Linked DNA regions of Homo sapiens: region 1 is linked to region 2. Evidence: fine-mapped expression QTL. Tissue or cell type: whole blood. Region 2 holds a variant in brackets; the other region holds the start of a gene. All regions are shown on one strand. Distances are from middle to middle.

Region 1 (8,181 bases), 66 kb after region 2:
GGCCTGCCAGGCCGTCATCAGCCCCACTCAGCCACTGTGAGCGCGGCAGTTCAGCAGGGAGTGCAACTTCCTTCCACCCCCTGCTGCCTGGCTGATTGGCAGCCAGCGGGGCTGGAGGGGAGCAGCTCGTGCTGACTGTTTGCCGCTGGGCAGGGAGGGCTTGGCAGGGGTGGCCGTGAGAGGACCTGGGAGCTCAGGGGTCTAAGAGACACAGAGGATTCCCTGAGTCAGGAACCCGGCCAGAATCCCCCATCTGCCCCTCTGGTATCTGGCTGCTGGCCCTCTGTAGGGAAATGATGGATGAGGTCCTTCCCAGAGAACCTCTAGGTAGGGGGAGGAGAGAGAAGCTTATCTTCTACAGAATTGAGGCCAGTGGTTCAGGGGACCTCAGGTCTCAGGCCTCTGCAGGAGGCCTGGCTGTGGCACTCACCAGGACCTGCAGTCTCCTGATCCTGGTTAAAACCAAGAGCAAATGAAGTAGTTTAGCAGCCAGGCTATAGGGGCTCCTGGCAGGACCTGTCAAAATGGCCCTCCTGGCTCATATAGAGCTAATTAATAAATATATGTACACACACACACACACACACACACACACACACACACACCATTATAAACCACAGTCATTATGAATCATTTTCTGCCCAGATTGAGTTTCTTAATTGAGGCAGGAGAAAAGTCACTGGGGAAAAAAAATGGCCATGAATATTGCCCCAACTATATAGTTCAGAGAGAAGCCCGGCCAAAATCTCTACTGGAGATTTGCTTAGTTTCCTTTAATGAGAACTCCAACAGCCCGAATTTTGCTTGGGCAGCCAGAATTTGAACTGAAATACTGTCTGGAGAAGTCACATCAAAAGCTTTAGGGCTTTCCCGCGTGTCTGGGGCTGCCGAGACCTGGCCAGAGTCTTCATGCAAGTAAGTATAGAACCCATAATGAGAGCTTAGGTTGCTAACAATAAGTTCAAATCATCCTTTCTTTCCCAATCTCTCCAGAGATTTTTTGTTTGTTTGTTTTCATCAGTCTGTGCTGGCTCAAGTTTTTAGATTAAGCTATTTTGGAGTTTCCATGTCTAAAACCCTCTCAAACTTTTAAAAGTGAAAAGCATCACTCAAAAGCAACTAAGTACTTTCTTCTAACACTATAGGTGCACATAAATAAATCAATAAAACTGGTCCCGGGGCTATGAATATATATGGAAAAATTAGGTCCCTAGAGATCAGTTTTCAGAAAGCCAAGGGGATGTGAAAATAGAGGCTAAAGCAAACGTCTCAATACTTTGTAACAGGGTGGCACATTTAAGACAAGGGCACCAGGTTTTAAAATGATCCTGTGCAAATGGACTGTCGGATGGGACATTTAATGTACTGCTTTTATCAGGGATAAAGATAGTTGGTGTATGGGTTTATTTCTTCTTTGAAAAAAGTTAACCACAATATAATTAGCTCTCTTTTTTGTCAGTCTGGGCTGCTGTTGATGAGGTGTCTAGAGGCCTTCTGGTATAGGTGCCTAAAAGCTTAAACTGCATTTAATTATTATTATTACTCAATGTCAGGCTACATAAATGAAAAGAGATAAAAAAGAATTGCTTGCAGCTACATTGCCTTGGTTTGTGATTTCATCACATCTCACAAGCGAAGCAGGTTTGAGCTGGCACTTGGGGCATGAAACCTCTAAGGAAAACCCAGGCAGCTAGAGATGCTGTTTCAACCGAGTTGAAAGTCTCCCCACATGCTGGGGAGGGTAGAGGCTTGCCACACTTTGATTTTGCTCCCCAGCTTTATTTTTAAATACCGTAATAACTGTCTGACTTATTTCGGAGAAGGAAAGCAAATAGGGGAAATGGAGTCACAGGGAGAGTGGTCTTAAAGGCACATAGTCTGGAATGCGAAGATTTCTTGGCTCCCAACGCTCATTGATTGTCTGTCCTGCTGCCTGAAATACCAGTGAGGGCGCCAAAGGAGCAGTGGTATATCATGAAGGGCTCAGCTAACTGTGGAAACTGGAATGGGCTTTCCCACCTGAATGCAGGCAGAGAGCAAGGTGCAGACAAGGAGGCTTGAAAGGCAGATGGACCAAGTTCTGCCCACTTTTCCTACAGTCTATTTATCCACAGGTCAGGATGAAAACAGATGGTTTGCCAGAGGGCAATATATTGGCAGACAGTACCTTGCTTTTTAGGCATGAGACGTCAGGCTTAGGAACAAGTGCTTGGCACTGAGTTAATTAACTCTAGACATTCAGCTCAAGGATGACCTTCTTTCTAGCTCCTTAGATTAAAAAGATAATGAGTTAGGCAGCCCAGAATGGTCAGAAGACCAGAAGCTTTAGCTGCATTCTAGCCCCACCTTTTTTTCTGCTGTTCTCTAGCACCTTAGTTTGCAAGCCCCCTAGGACAGGGACCATGGTGTGCAATGTTATTGAACTTCCCCAGGATGAGTGCTGCAGTTGTATACAACAGGCAGAAAACCAATGTGCTGACTAGTATACTGGTTCCTTTTCTTAGCTCCTGGCCAGCCAGTCCGTTGTAAAATTTTCTTTAGATTATGATGCCAGGGACTATTGCTTTTTGAAGGGCTGCCAGGGAGAGTTCAAGCCATTCAGGCCCTTCATCAGTTGTGTCACCATCCATTTCAGTTACCTGTTGATACCTAGCAAATCGCCCTAAAACTTAGTGGCTTAAACTACAACTACTTATTTAGTATGTGATGCTGTGAGTCAGCTAGTTGAGCAAGGCTCAGCTGGATGGTTCTTCGGCTGGTCTCAGCTGGGCTCACTCATGTGCTTGTCATCAGCTGTGCGGGTGGGGGTGGGGGGGCGTGGAGGGGGCGGCAGGCAATGGCCTCACTCACACATCTGGTGATGGTTGACTGTTGGTTGGGAATCCTACCTTAACCAGCAAGCTATTCGGAGCTTATTTACATGGTTTCCAAGAGCAGAAGCAAGAGTTAAATCCTAATGCACAATTGCTTTAAAAGCCTTTTTTTTTCTTTTTTTTTTTTTTTTTTTCTGGTAACACATGTACAAACGTTGCTTTGGTCAAAGCAAGTTACATGACTGAGCACAGAGTGAAAGAGACAGTGGCAGGGCAAGGGACAAAGAAGGGGAATGATTGCTGCCATTTTGCAAACAGTCTATCATGTGCAAAACAAGGCCAAGAACAAACTTTCAAGGTGATACTTCATTCTTAGATTTCCAAGATGCTAGAGCCAGAAGTCCTAGTTGAGTCCCTGTTTCTCCACGTTTCAGGCCTCAGTTTCCCCATCTAATAAATGAGGATAACATCCATTTCACAGGGTTGATCCAGGATCAACAGGGGCTAAAAATTATAAATAAATGTTGGTAATGATGCTTCCACAACTGTACAATGGGTTCACAACTTCTCAACCTACTTGCTCATCTCCACACACAGCGTTTCTGCGAGTACAGAGGGCTCACTATTGATAGTGGTCCAAGAGGGGATTTTAGGTGTCACAGGAACAGCACCTTGAATACGATTGACTTATGTGTGTGATTCACCTTCCCTCTGTCATTCTCTTTCAGTCTTTCCTCTTAGGAGAAGTCTCAGCTTAATGCCAATGCCTTCCCCTTTTGCTAATTATTTTATTTTTTGTAAAGAGGGGGTGTGTCACTTTGTGGCCGAGGCTGCTCTTGAACTCCTGTCCTCAAGGGATCCTCCTGCCTCAGCCTCCCAAGGTGCTGGGATTACAGGCATGAGCCATGGAATGCCACCAGTGCCAATTTGTCTTTGACACCTCTCTCAACCCATGCTAACCATCTCCCTCAGAGTTTTTGGCCCTATTTAGAATTGAATAATGCTTTATTTTCAATTTTTACATTTGCTTTCTATTAATGACAAATGATACGTTAAAAAATATATAAGCAAGCACTAATAGTTTAAAAAACAATGCTAAGTATATAATAAAACGTGGTTCATTCATTCTTGCGTTCAACAAATATTCGTCCAATAAATATATGTAGAGCATCTCCTATGGGCCAGGATCTTGCCAAAGGCACATCTGCGAACCAAGGAAACCCCTGCCCTCGGGGAGCTTGCATTCTAGGCGTGGGAGTCGTGATGGTGGTCGGAGAAGGACTGGATTTGGGGATTTGCTTCTTGCGGGGGACACAGGCCTGCCCGTGGGGCCCGCCTCCCGCGCGGAGAGCGCTGAGGGGTCCGGAGTGACCTGTAGGCTGAGACCCTGGCTTCCCCTTGCCTAGAGGCCGGGCAGGAGGCGCGGAGCCCGAGGTCGCGGGGCTGAGGGCGCGGGGCGGGCCCGGCGGGGCTCGGCTGCGGCCCGGGCTGTGTCTGCGGCCCCGGCGGCCGCGCCCCTCCTCCCTTTCCCTCCGGCGGAGGCTGACGTGGAGTCAACAGCGCTGGCGGCCGCGAGAGGCGGCGGCGCAGCGGCTCGGAGGCGCCGGGCCCTCTCGGGGCCGCGCGGGGCCCGGGCGGCGGCGGCGACGCGACGTCGCGAGGAGGAGGAGGCGGCGGGGGTCCAGGAGGCCGGCCAGCGCATGGAGGAGGAGGCCATGAACGGCGACCGGACTGAGAGCGACTGGCAGGGGCTGGTGAGCGAGGTGAGGCCGCGGCGCCGGCCAGGCGGGATGGGCCGGGCCGAGCGGCCGCCAGCCCCGGGCCCGCGCCCCCAGAGAGGCCGAGCTGGGAGGGACGAGAGGGGGGCGCGCACTCCAAGTGGCCGCGGCTGCCGCACCCGCGCGACCCCGCCAGGTGCGCCGCTCCTCCTGCACTTTCGGGTCTGCGCGGGCGCCACTTTCTTCCGCGCCATCTGGTGTCAGCCTTTGGGGAGGGGCCTTCCCCCCAAGGCAGGGGTTGGCCCTGGATTGGAGGCTGAAGCCCTGGGATCCGGGAGCAGAAGGTGCCAAGCCCCACCTGCCTGCCCGCTCGCCACTGTTGTGGAGCCAAACAATTGGACGCCTGGGACTGAAACGGGAAGGTGGTGCCATGGGGGAGAATCCGAGCCCTGGGGTGGAACCTGGGCCAGGTGGAATTACCTGCGGCGGTGGTTCGAGTTGGGGGAGTTCGGGGGTCCGCTGCAGCCGTTCACTCATTCACTTGCTCAATTCAATCAACACGTGTTTACTGCAGGCCTACCATGTGTAAGGTGGGGAGGGGCATTTATCGAAAAAGTGAAACACAGGTGCAGAAGTGATTCGATTTGTGGAAGCACAGAACACCGTGTCCCCCTGCCCTGCGACTCTTTTGTCATAAACATACCCTGGGGGTCCACTTTCAGGATCCTATGCTGTTTGCTCTTCAGTTCCCCCTAAGAGTTTGCCGGCCTGCCGGGAGAAGCTGCCGGCCTCTCCAGGTGAGAGGGAATGCGGATTTCTCCCTCTCACCTGGAGGCAACCAGGTAAGTTGCCCTGGTTTGCCACCATTTGTGGGGGCAATTCCTGGTGTTACTTACCCATGCCGGGGAATTTCTCCCTTCTGAGAACCAAGCTCCAGCCAAGGCCAACTTGGGGCTTCCTTTTCTTTAATCCTGTGCACACAATGCAGAGTGTATCGGTTTGCTCTTTTCCTTTCCTTGTGGGTTATGGGAAGGGAAACCCTCTACTCCCTCACTCCTTTCATCGTTTTCTGGGTCTCCAGGTCAGTCTGATAATAGTGCTTCATGCCCAGTGTGTGCAGAGCGTTGTGTTTCTGAAGAGGAATGACATGCGGTAGCTCCTGCCCTAGTTTAGTTTGCTCAGCATTGGTCTAGTAGTTGAAAGCTCTCCTAACTGTCTGGTGTTATGATCCATTGTATTGCAGCCTGGCTCCATCTTCTCAAACTGTCAGGCTTTATGTTAAGGGGCAGATCCTCTGGGGACCTTGTTTCTGGTCCCATCAAGAATCATACTTAGTAGTCAAGGAGGCTGGAGGTAGTTCTCCTTAGAAGTCCAGTGTTAGGCCCTTAAATAGCAGCAGAATCTTCACTACTCCAACAATTGCATATCAGGTGCCTGTTAGGAGTCAGTACATTGTGAGGTGCTTGGGATTCAGTGGTGAATAAGACAAAGAACTCCCCTACCCTCAAAGAACTCCTGGGGGTTTCATGATATAGTCTGGGAGGAAGGTCATACCGTAGACAGTGAGAGTGAACTAAAGGATGGAAAGGCTTCAAGTGCTAAATGGCATGGGGTGCCCCTCAGTTGGCTGGGCTTAACCTTCACCTTGCCCTGACCACATTATTGTAACAATAGGCTTCCTCACTAGGCCGTGTGCTTTGTTTGGTTCTTTATTCCAGGGCCTATACACAGAGCTCTGTATGCAGCAGGTGCTCGAAAAATGCTTGTTGAATAAGTCAGTGAATCCTGAAGTAGGTCCTTCAGGAGTTTTCCTGCCCATCCCAGCAGAGTTTCTCCAGAGTAATACCTCCTTAACTTCACAAACATGAGGTGGGCACGTAGCCAGGGGCCATGGGGGAGGTGAAAATGGGTCTAACTTACTTCCCACCTTAATAATAACTAATGACTATTTTTTGAGTGCATCCTTCATATTAAGCATTTTACATGGCCTCATATTCACAATGACATAAGGTAGGAATTCTTTCTTATTTTACAGATAAGGAAACAGTGGCTCAGACAGGCTAAGGAACTTGCACAGAGCCTCACATCTGGTAAGTGGAAGAGGCAGGATTTGAATCCTGGTCTGTCTGACTCATTGCTTGAGCCTTGCTTGTCTGAGCCTTGCTAGGCCACACTTGCTATTTTAATCATTGCTCATCTGTCTGTATCTTCTGCTAGATGGCAGGCTTCCCAAGGAAGGAGACCATGTCTGATTCAACTTTGAGTCCGCAGCAAATGGCTTGGTGTTTCTTAGAGTATGGCCTACAGATCACCTGCATCAGAGTCATTTTGGGTGCCTGTGAAAAATTCAAGTTTATGGGTCTCTCCCAAATTTACTGTAGTGAGTTGAATTATGTATCCTGCTCCCCCCACCTCCCCACCATAGCTGCATCCGAGACCTAACCCCAGTAGCTGCAAATGTGACTTTATTTGGAAATAGGGCCTTTGCAGATATGATCAAGTTAAGGATCTTTAGATGAGATCACCCTGGATTTAGGGTAGGTCCTAAATCTAATGACTGATACCTTAGAAGAGAAAGGACAGAGATTTAAGCCACAGACACACAAGGGAGCAGGCTATGGGAAGACGGAGATGCATGAAAGGAAGACCATGTGAAGACAAAGGTAGAGATTGGAGTGATGCAGCCACATGGCAAGGCATGCCAGAGGTCGCTGGCAGCTCCCAGAAGCTGGAAGAGGCAGATTCTCCCTCAAAGTCCCCAGAAAAAAACAACTGTTGACACCTTGCTTTTGGACTTCCGGCCTCTATAACTGTGAGTGAATACACTCCTGTTGTTTTAAGCCACCCCGTTTATGATCATTTGTTACAGCAATGTATTAGTCCGTTTTCATGCTGCTTATAAAGACATACCTGAGACTGGGTGATTTACAAAAGAAAGAGAGATTTCATGGGCCTGCTGTTCCACATGACTGGGGAGGCCTCACAATCATGCTGGAAGGCAAGGAGGAGCAAGTAACATCTTACATGGATGGCAGCAGGCAAGGAGGAGCAAGTAACATCTTACATGGATGGCAGCAGGCAAAGAGAGAGAGCTTCTGCAGGAGAACTCCTCTTTATAAAACCATCAGATCTCGTGAGACTTATTCACTATCACGAGAACATTATGGAGGAAACTAGCCCCATGATTCAATTATCTCCCACCAGGTCCCTCCCACAACATGTGGGAGTTATGGGAATGCAATTCAAGGTGAGATTTGAGTGGGGACACAGAGCCAAACCATATCAAGCAGCCACAAGAAACTAATACACCTACTGCTGAAAAGTGCCTGGGGTTGCAGCCCCCTGATCTGCCTTTCTTACAAGCTGAGCTGCCCAGGTAATTCCCCTGCCCAGTCAAGTTTGGCTGGCAGGGGTTCCATGGGTGTGACTGGGTCTGGTACCAGACAGGTAAGATTCAGGGAAGAGTGTGCTCAGCAGCTGTGGTGTTACGAAATGGTTTGGGGACCTGGCAGAAGGACCTGTGGAAGACATCACTGCACAGCTAATCTGGACTACATGGGATTTTCGTGGGCTTGCATTTATTTCTGCAGAAGTCCTGGGTGCTGTCTCCCACCCTGGATCCCCTCTCCATCACCTGCCCAGAGCCCCGT
Region 2 (8,181 bases):
AGGAGCAGAGTATTTGAACACAAGACCATCACAAATACAATCAGGATTTTGCTAGTATAGAAGAAACAGAAACGAATATTGGCTGGGCTGGCCGAGCAGTGTCCCCCACAGTCACTCTGACACCATTTTGGCTCAAAAGCCCTTGCCAGCATCCCACTGTCCATTCCAGCACTGTCTAATAAAAATAGAACACAAACCACAAATGCAAGCTCTGGCTGTCCTTTAACATTCTCTAGTAGCCACATCAAAAAAGCAACAAGAGGCAGGGTGCAGTGGCTCACGCCTGTAATCCCAGCACTTTGGGAGGCCAAGGCAGGTGGATCACCTGAGGTCAGGAGTTCAAGACCAGCCTGGCCAACATGGGGAAACCCCCATCTCTACAAAAATACAAAAATTAGCCAGGCATGATGGCAGGTGCCTGTAATCCCAGCTCTCAGGAGGCTGAGGCAGGAGAATCGCTTGAACCTGGGAGGCAGAGGTTGCAGTAAGCTGAGATCACGCCACTGCACTCCAGCCTGGGCAACAGAGTGAGACTCCCTCTCAAAAAAAAAAAAAAGAAAAAAGAAAAAAGCAACAAGAATCAGGTGAAATGAATTTAAATACCTCATTTACTCTAATCTATCCAAAATATTATCATCTCATCATGTAATCAATCTTTTAAAATATTAATACGATTTTTTTCATGCCAAATCTTCAAAATCCAGTGTTTGTTTTTTTTCCACTTGCAGCACACTCCAATTCAGACTAACTTCATTTCAAGCCATTCATAGCCACCCGTGGCCAGTAGCTTCCATATTGGAGAGTACATATCTATACTTAGGCAATTGGTTCTCAGCTGGGTGTTTTTAAAAGTGCAGGGGAGTTGGGCTGCCTTTCGTTAGCAGAGATGATGAGGGTCTTGAGAGACCTTTGGTAATCACACAAGGCTTAGGACAGTCCCACTGACAATGAAGAATTGTTCTGCCTGAATGCTGATAATGCTTCTATTGAAAACCGCTGCTTTCATACATGCAAAGAGCTTAGAACAGTGCCTGGCTCACAATAAGCCCTGAATGCAAGATTATTATTATTATCGTTACTATGCAGTCAGGTCCAGACTTCATCTCCTAGCATATGAACGCTCCATAGTCTTACCCCAGTGCTTTTACCAAGAAACCACACACACACACACACACACACACACACACACACACACACACATACCCATAATAATACATATGGGCATATGGGTAGTTTCTATATCTTCTATGCCTATTATGTTTGTGCATGTGTGTGTACAGTGCCTGAGTGTATGTGTGTGTGTGTGAATATCTATCTATCTATCTATCTATCTATATATATATATATATATATATATCTTGGGGTCTTCATATATCTCATTTCATTGCTCTGCAAATCTACCTTGAGAATAGGAGAGTGTATTAGTCCATTTTTACACTGCTGATAAAGACGTACCCAAGACTGGGCAATTTACAAAAAAAGAGGTTTAATGGACTCACAATTCCATGTGGCTGGAGAGGCCTCACAATCATGGTGGGAGGTGAAAGGCACGTCTTATATGGCAGCAGACAAGAGAACTTGTGTTGGGAAACTCCCCTTTATAAAACCATCAGATCTTGTGAGACCTGTCCGCTATCATGAGAACAGCACACGAAAGACCTGCTCCCCTGATTCAATTATCTCCCACCAGGTCCCTCGCACAACACGTGGGAATCATAGGAGCTACAGTTCAAGATGAGATTTGAGTGGGGACACAGCCAAACCATATCAGAGAGTAACTATAATTAGTTCTGTTGTACAGATAAGAAAACTAAGGCCAGAGAAGTTAAGCTGCTTGCTTAAGTTCACACAGCAACTGAGGAAGAGCTACAATTTCAACCTTCTTTGCTAGAGATTAGAGTTTACTATCCATAAATCTGGAAGCCCTAGCAATACCAATGTTATAGGTATCATGACTGAAGCCAGCCCATCTTCCACTGCCAAAGACCTGCCAAGCTCTTCCTTGGGGGACACACCAGAAGAACAATTCTCCCTGTGCTTGGGCCCGAGGCTCACCATACGGTTTCACTCCTGTCCTAGAAATGAGCTTGGAGCCGGTGACAAAGAGAAACATCCCAGTGCAATTTCAGTCTCAACAATGACAACTGATGATGCACAATAGTGGGATCTGGCCTGTAATCAGTTTCAAGCTATACTTAGCCATTTAAGCGTCCATTCTGCTCACTCCAGAGAGTGTGCGGGAGAGTCACACACCCCTCAGCTTCAGCTTCTGGCTCATCACCGCAGAGCACCATGCGGAAAAAGGACCCCTTTGTGATAGCACCGTAAATTACAGCCCAGGCAATCTGGAGTCTCAGCTAGAGTGGATTCTTCTGTCTCCTAAAAGAAAAATCTGTTTTAGGCTTAATTACAGTCTGTCATTACCTGCAATCTTATAATGACCCAAAGTCCCTGGAAAATGATAATAATAATTAAAAAAAAAGAGAGAGAGAGAGAGAGAATCGATTCAAATATGAATGGAAAAAGCCAGACAAATGCAGGGCAGGGAAGTGCTGGTAGCATTCTTCAGAAACAACTGTGCCATGAGGATCAGAGCTTTACAATGGTAAATACTTATTCTGGCTCCGTTGTCAATTTACCAGGCCCAAGGGCTCAGTGTTAACTTTACTCACTTTCTGAATCTTTAATCTCGTTGCTGTAGAATTCACCTTATAAAATGCAGGAGCAGCTCCCAAGATAAATTGATGCTGAAAATCAGACGACTGAGATTTAATAGGACAATGCTTCTCAGATCCCGCGAGGACGCATTGAACATACGAAAAGTGTTCAGTGATTGCTCTTAGTATGTTAGTAAGGAGATGCTGAGGTTTATCAGAAGACGCCTTTTAAATCAAGTTTTCTTTGTCAGTTTTCACGGACAGGACTTTCAGGTGCAGCCGACCATTGGGAGCTCCCTCTTGTGGCCATATCAGGAATGGAAATGTATCTCTTCCCACCACCCGACTTAAACCTCCAAAAGCAAAACTGAGGCCAACTGACTCAAGCTGGTGAATCCGCGATTGCGTACTAGAGAAGGGGGCCTTAGGGAAGTCTCAAAATGCTACGCTTAAATTTTCCTGGAGTCCAGATGTCCTTCTGAATCCACTAAACCTTGTGAAGCGATGTGAACGTCAGG[T/A]AAAAATCCTTTCTTTTCCTGTTTAACTGCCTCGTTATTTATGGACACAATTACTTTATATTATATACAGATTATATAAAATAACTCGTTGATTATTTTTAATTTATTGCTTGTGAGAATTCCCTGTGCATCAAAGAAGCCTTTTAAGCCGATTTTGCTTCCACAACAAGATTCTCGGGTGGATTCAGTTTACCGGAATTAACATCGACGCATTGACGTGACATTCAGTTGGGAACATGGAGCTGACTGTGTTTAGAGAGAGCTGAGCAAGTTCCCTAGGCAGGTTCCTTTTACTGTAATGGTCCCTGGGTCACAATGAGAACTTGGCCACCATCCCATGCAACTCCTCCTTTTCTTTCCGTTGCACTCTGGTTTCAGGAAGGAAATGATGACATGACTTACCCATCAGCCCTGTTTCCTGATTTTGAAACCACAGGGAATCTGCTCAATTGTAGGAACCAGGTTAGGAAAAGACTGAGTTAGAAATCATTACATTGTGAATAACAGAAAACTCAAACCAGTTTAAATAGCATATGGAATATATAGGGGCAGGTAATGACAAGTCTAGAGGTAGGCTTCAAGTAAGGCTTGATCCAGTAGATCAGGACTATTGCCAAGGACCCCACTTCTCTCCATGTCTTCTCTCTTTCTTCTAAGGTATAGCAGACCCTGTCTGTGCTCTGACCATTTCCCTGCAGCCTATCCTGAAGATCACTTGCAGACATTTCCTGTATACTTCAAAGATTGCCTGCATCTTTCTGTCTGAGGGCATTCCCTGTTCCTGGTGGTGTACACCCAAGCTGGAAATACCAGAAAGTTAACACCCCAAGATTGACCCTCAATACTAAGGAATAAAAGTTAGTTAATAAATATCCCAGGTTCCTTACACAGGGACAGTAAGGAGATATGCTGCACAGTATTTCTCAAGGTATTTCCCAAGACACTGAATCCATGTCCCCCATGGTGGCCTCATTAATTCACCCTTTACTGGCTTCCATTTGTTCCCTGTCTCACTTCCCTGCTCTCTCAAAGTGTTCCCTGCAATTCCTGTGCCCCCAAACCATTTGCATGCAGTCCTTCTCAGGGTCTCCTTTTCGGGGTAACTCAGGGTAAGAACAAAGTGCACCGCTTCCAGAAGGGAGCCATGAGTGTTGGACAACCAGCCACAGATGTCATCCTATTGAGAAATCCTAAAGACACGCCCAGGTCAGAGAAGCCAGCAGACTTCCCTTCTGGATATGGGGCATTTTACCAAAGGAAACCAGTGAGTCCGAGTAGATCTGAATCTGTGGCAAAATTGCCAGCATTTCAGCTGTGAAAAGCACACAGGATGCTAAAACCATCTCATTCTCTGGTGGGCGGTGGGTGGCGAATGGTGGGAGGAATGATGGGGAAAGGGAAGACTGTTCATTTTATTCACAGGGAAAATTAGAGACAACAACCATGGAGAATGGGTTCCAAATGCCATCCTACCCCCATCCTTGTCTCTTCATCTGAGGTTTTTCTGATTTTTCTGACTCCTCCAGAATTCACTGACCTCCCACGCCAACAACGAACCATCCCTCACAATTTAGACAAGTGCTGCCAACAGAAATAGAATGTGAACCACATATGCAAACCACCACATGCAACTTACAATTTCCTGGTGTCTACATTAAATGAGGGGAAAGAAACAGATGAAATTAACTTTAACAATGTACTTTATTTAACTCAGTAGATCACAAATATCCTTTCGATATGAAATTAATATAAAAATTATTAATAGGATATTTATATTATTTAAAAAAATCAAGTCTGTGAAAGCTGATGTGTGTTTTACACTTACAGCACATTTCAGCTCAGACTAGCCACATTTTACATGCTCAGTAACAGCAGGTAGTTAGTAGCTACTGTGTTGGACAGCACAGATTTATTTATTCATGTATTTATTTATTTTTGAGACAGGGTCTTGCCCTGTCACTGAGGCTGGAGTTAGTGGTGCAAATATAGGTCAGTGCAGCCCCAAAGTCTTGGGTTCAAGCAATCCTTCTGCCTCGGTTTCCTGAGTAGCTGGGACTAAAGGTGTGCACCATCAAGTCCAGTTAATTTTTTATTTTTGTAGAGATGGGATTGTGGTTATGTTACCCAGGCTGGACTTGAACTCCTGACCTCAAGCAATCCTCCTACCTTGGCCTATTAAACTGCTGGGATTACAGGCATGAGCCACTGTGCCCAGCCAGGTAGCATAGATTTATAGCATACCTTGTTACTATGTGTGTATTGAGCTTTTGAATTTCAAAATGCTTTCACATGCATATTATCATCTGGTCAATATTCCTAACAGGCAGACCTATGTGGTATTATCATCCCTGTATTGGTAATGCCTTAGGGGAGGTTAAGCTATTTTATCCTCTTTAGGGGTAGCAGGGCTGGGACTAGAGCTGGACTCCAGTGCTGGGCGCCTTCTACCACACCTTAGGTATTTCATTTGGGTCCACGACATCATCTTTTTTATCATCTTCAACATCTGGTATTAGCTAGACAGGCTTGTTGATTCACAGATAATATTAATTAGGATTTGTTTGGCCACAAATGACAGAGACTTGATTCAAACTGGCTTAACTATAAATAACAGAGGTGTTGGGGAGTGAAATGTTAGTTTGTAAAATGAATGCACGTGGTTTCAGGAATGGCTGGATCAAGGGAGAAATGGATATTTCCTGACGCATGGCTCTGCTTTTGTCTGTGCTTAGTAGATCTTAGGCAGCATCTCCACACAAGATAGCTAAGAGGATCTCCAACCTGCCAGCTTGGAGTCCTCGATGGAAAAAGAATACCTCTTTCCCAAAGCTCCAGCCAATGTCCTGGGGAAGGAGCTCATTGATGGGGCTTGGGTCCATGCCCATCCATGAACCAGTCATTGTACATCGTCACTAAGTCCCATGTCCACCCCAGCAACCATGAAAGCAACACAGTATCAAGGGTGGTCCCCCAAAGAAAGGGGAAATAATGGATCCCGGGCAAGCAGAAACCACAGATGTCTTCCCTGCCAATCCTGCATGCCTGTCTTTGGATTTTGTAATTAGAAATGAGGTTTGTTTGTTTGTTTTTTCCTGATCAGGTCCATCCTTTAATCAAGCCTGGATAGGCATCCTGGGAAGCGCAGAGCCTGTGTTCTAGTGTGGTCCATGCACACTCCTCTAGCGGCCAGATGTTCTCCACAATCGCACATAGCTTCCAAATCCCCGCTTGGCTCCAGAGCTGGAGTCCATTGCACACACCTGACAACACTTCTGGGAACATCCTTCAGAAAGGACACTATACCAGCGCAGGCCAGATGATGGCACACTTTTTGTTTTTTGTTTTTTTGAGAGGGAGTCAGTCTCGCTCTGTTGCCCAGATGGCTGGAGTGCAGTGGCACGATCTCGGCTCACTGCAATCTCTGCCTCCTGGGTTCAAGCAATTCTCCTGCCTCAGCCTCCTGAGTAGCTGGGACTACAGGCATGCACCACCATGCCCAGCTAATTTTTGTATTTTTGGTAGAGATGGAGTGTCACCATGTTGGCCAGGCTGGTCTCAAACTCCTGACCTCAGGCGATTCGCCAGCCTCAGCCTCCCAAAGTGCTGAGATTACAGACATGAGCCACCGCACCCAGCCTGATGACACACTTTGGATAAATGTCCTGGTGATACCTCTATACCCATTTCCACCTTCTCCAGCCCTTCACCCTGACACAGGCCTGGTTCCAGGGCCACACAGTGCCCAAGCAAGGAGGATACCTGCAGATGGCCTCAAGTGGGGGACTCTGCCTGTGCTCCATGTTGCTTTCCTTGATAAATGGACCCTGGAATTACTCTAAGGGGCCCAGATAGATTAGTAAGGATCTCTTTGAGCTCCACGTACTCTTAAAAAGAATTAAACTCATTTAAGGAAAAAGGTAATTATTGGCTCAAATAACTGAAAAATCTAAAGTAGGCACAGCTAAACACGGGGCTCAAATGATTGCCACCAAATCTTTCCTCTCTTTTCCACTTCCCTCCCTTCCCCCCTCCCTCTCCTTCCCTCCCTTCCCCTCTTTTCCCTCTCCCTTCTCCTTCTTTTTCCTGTCCCCTCTCCTCCTCTACCCTCCTTTTCTCTTCTTTTCTCTTCCTTGTATGCATGGACCACACTGGAACACAGACTTTGCCCTTCCCAGGACCCCCAACCAGGCTTGAGTTAAATGATGGGCCTGATCAGAAAAAAAAACTCATTTCTAATTACAAAATTCAAAGACAGATGCGGGATTGGCAGAGAAGACATCTGTGGTTTCTGCTTGCCTGGGACCCGTTACTTCTCCTTTCTTTGGGGGACCACCCTTGACACTGTGTTTACTTTCATGGTTGCAGGGGTGGACACGGGACTTAGTGATAGTGCACAGTGACTGGTTCAGGGATGGGCATGGACCCAAGCCCCATCAATGAGCTCCTTCCCCAGGACGTATGCTTCCTCTCTCCTCCCCTTCCCTCTCCTCTCTTCCCCTCCCCTCTCCTCTCCTTTCATCTTTTCTCTCCTTCCCTTCCCTATCCTACTTTTCCTTCCTTTCCCTCTCCTGTCCCCTCTCCTCCCCGCTTTCTTCTCTTCCCCTCCCCTCCCTCTCCTGTCCCCCTCCTCCCCCTTCCTTCTCCTTCCCTCCCCTCTTACATTCTCTCCCCTCCCCTCAAGATCCCCTCCTCTTCTCTGCCTTCTCCTCCCCTCCCCTCCCTCTCCTTCCCCCTTCTCCTTTTGTCTTGCCTCCCTTCTTTTCCCTTTCTCTCCTATCTTCTGTTTTGTCTTCCTCCCTTCCCTTCCTGTTTTAGTCTGTTTTGTGCTGCTATAACAGAATAGTTATCATAGAATACCTGAGATTGGGTAATTAATAAAGAACAGAAATTTATTTCTCATAGCTATGGAGGCTGGAAAGTCCAAGATCAAGGTGCTGGCATCTCATGAGGGGCGTCTTGCTGCAACCTCACATGGCATAAGGCAAGAGAGCAAGCTAGTGCAATGC

Evidence for each region. PIP is the estimated chance that this variant, and not a neighbour inherited with it, causes the effect.
Region 1: CCDC149 starts here. The variant in region 2 is fine-mapped to the expression of CCDC149 in whole blood (TOPMed, PIP 0.95).

Annotation. Positions count from the first base shown.
Region 1 is chr4:24,909,212-24,917,392 of GRCh38, reverse strand. CCDC149 (coiled-coil domain containing 149) reads left to right here and starts at 4,351. Exons shown (of 13, transcript NM_001395273.1): 1 at 4,351-4,576. The coding sequence starts at 4,529. RefSeq lists an enhancer at 1-554.
Region 2 is chr4:24,975,062-24,983,242 of GRCh38, reverse strand. It overlaps LOC102723675 (a long non-coding RNA gene), which reads right to left and starts at 3,425. Exons shown (of 6, transcript XR_007058082.1): 1 at 2,673-3,425. It also overlaps a transcript of CCDC149 not described here. The variant T/A (reference allele first, on the strand shown) is at 3,176.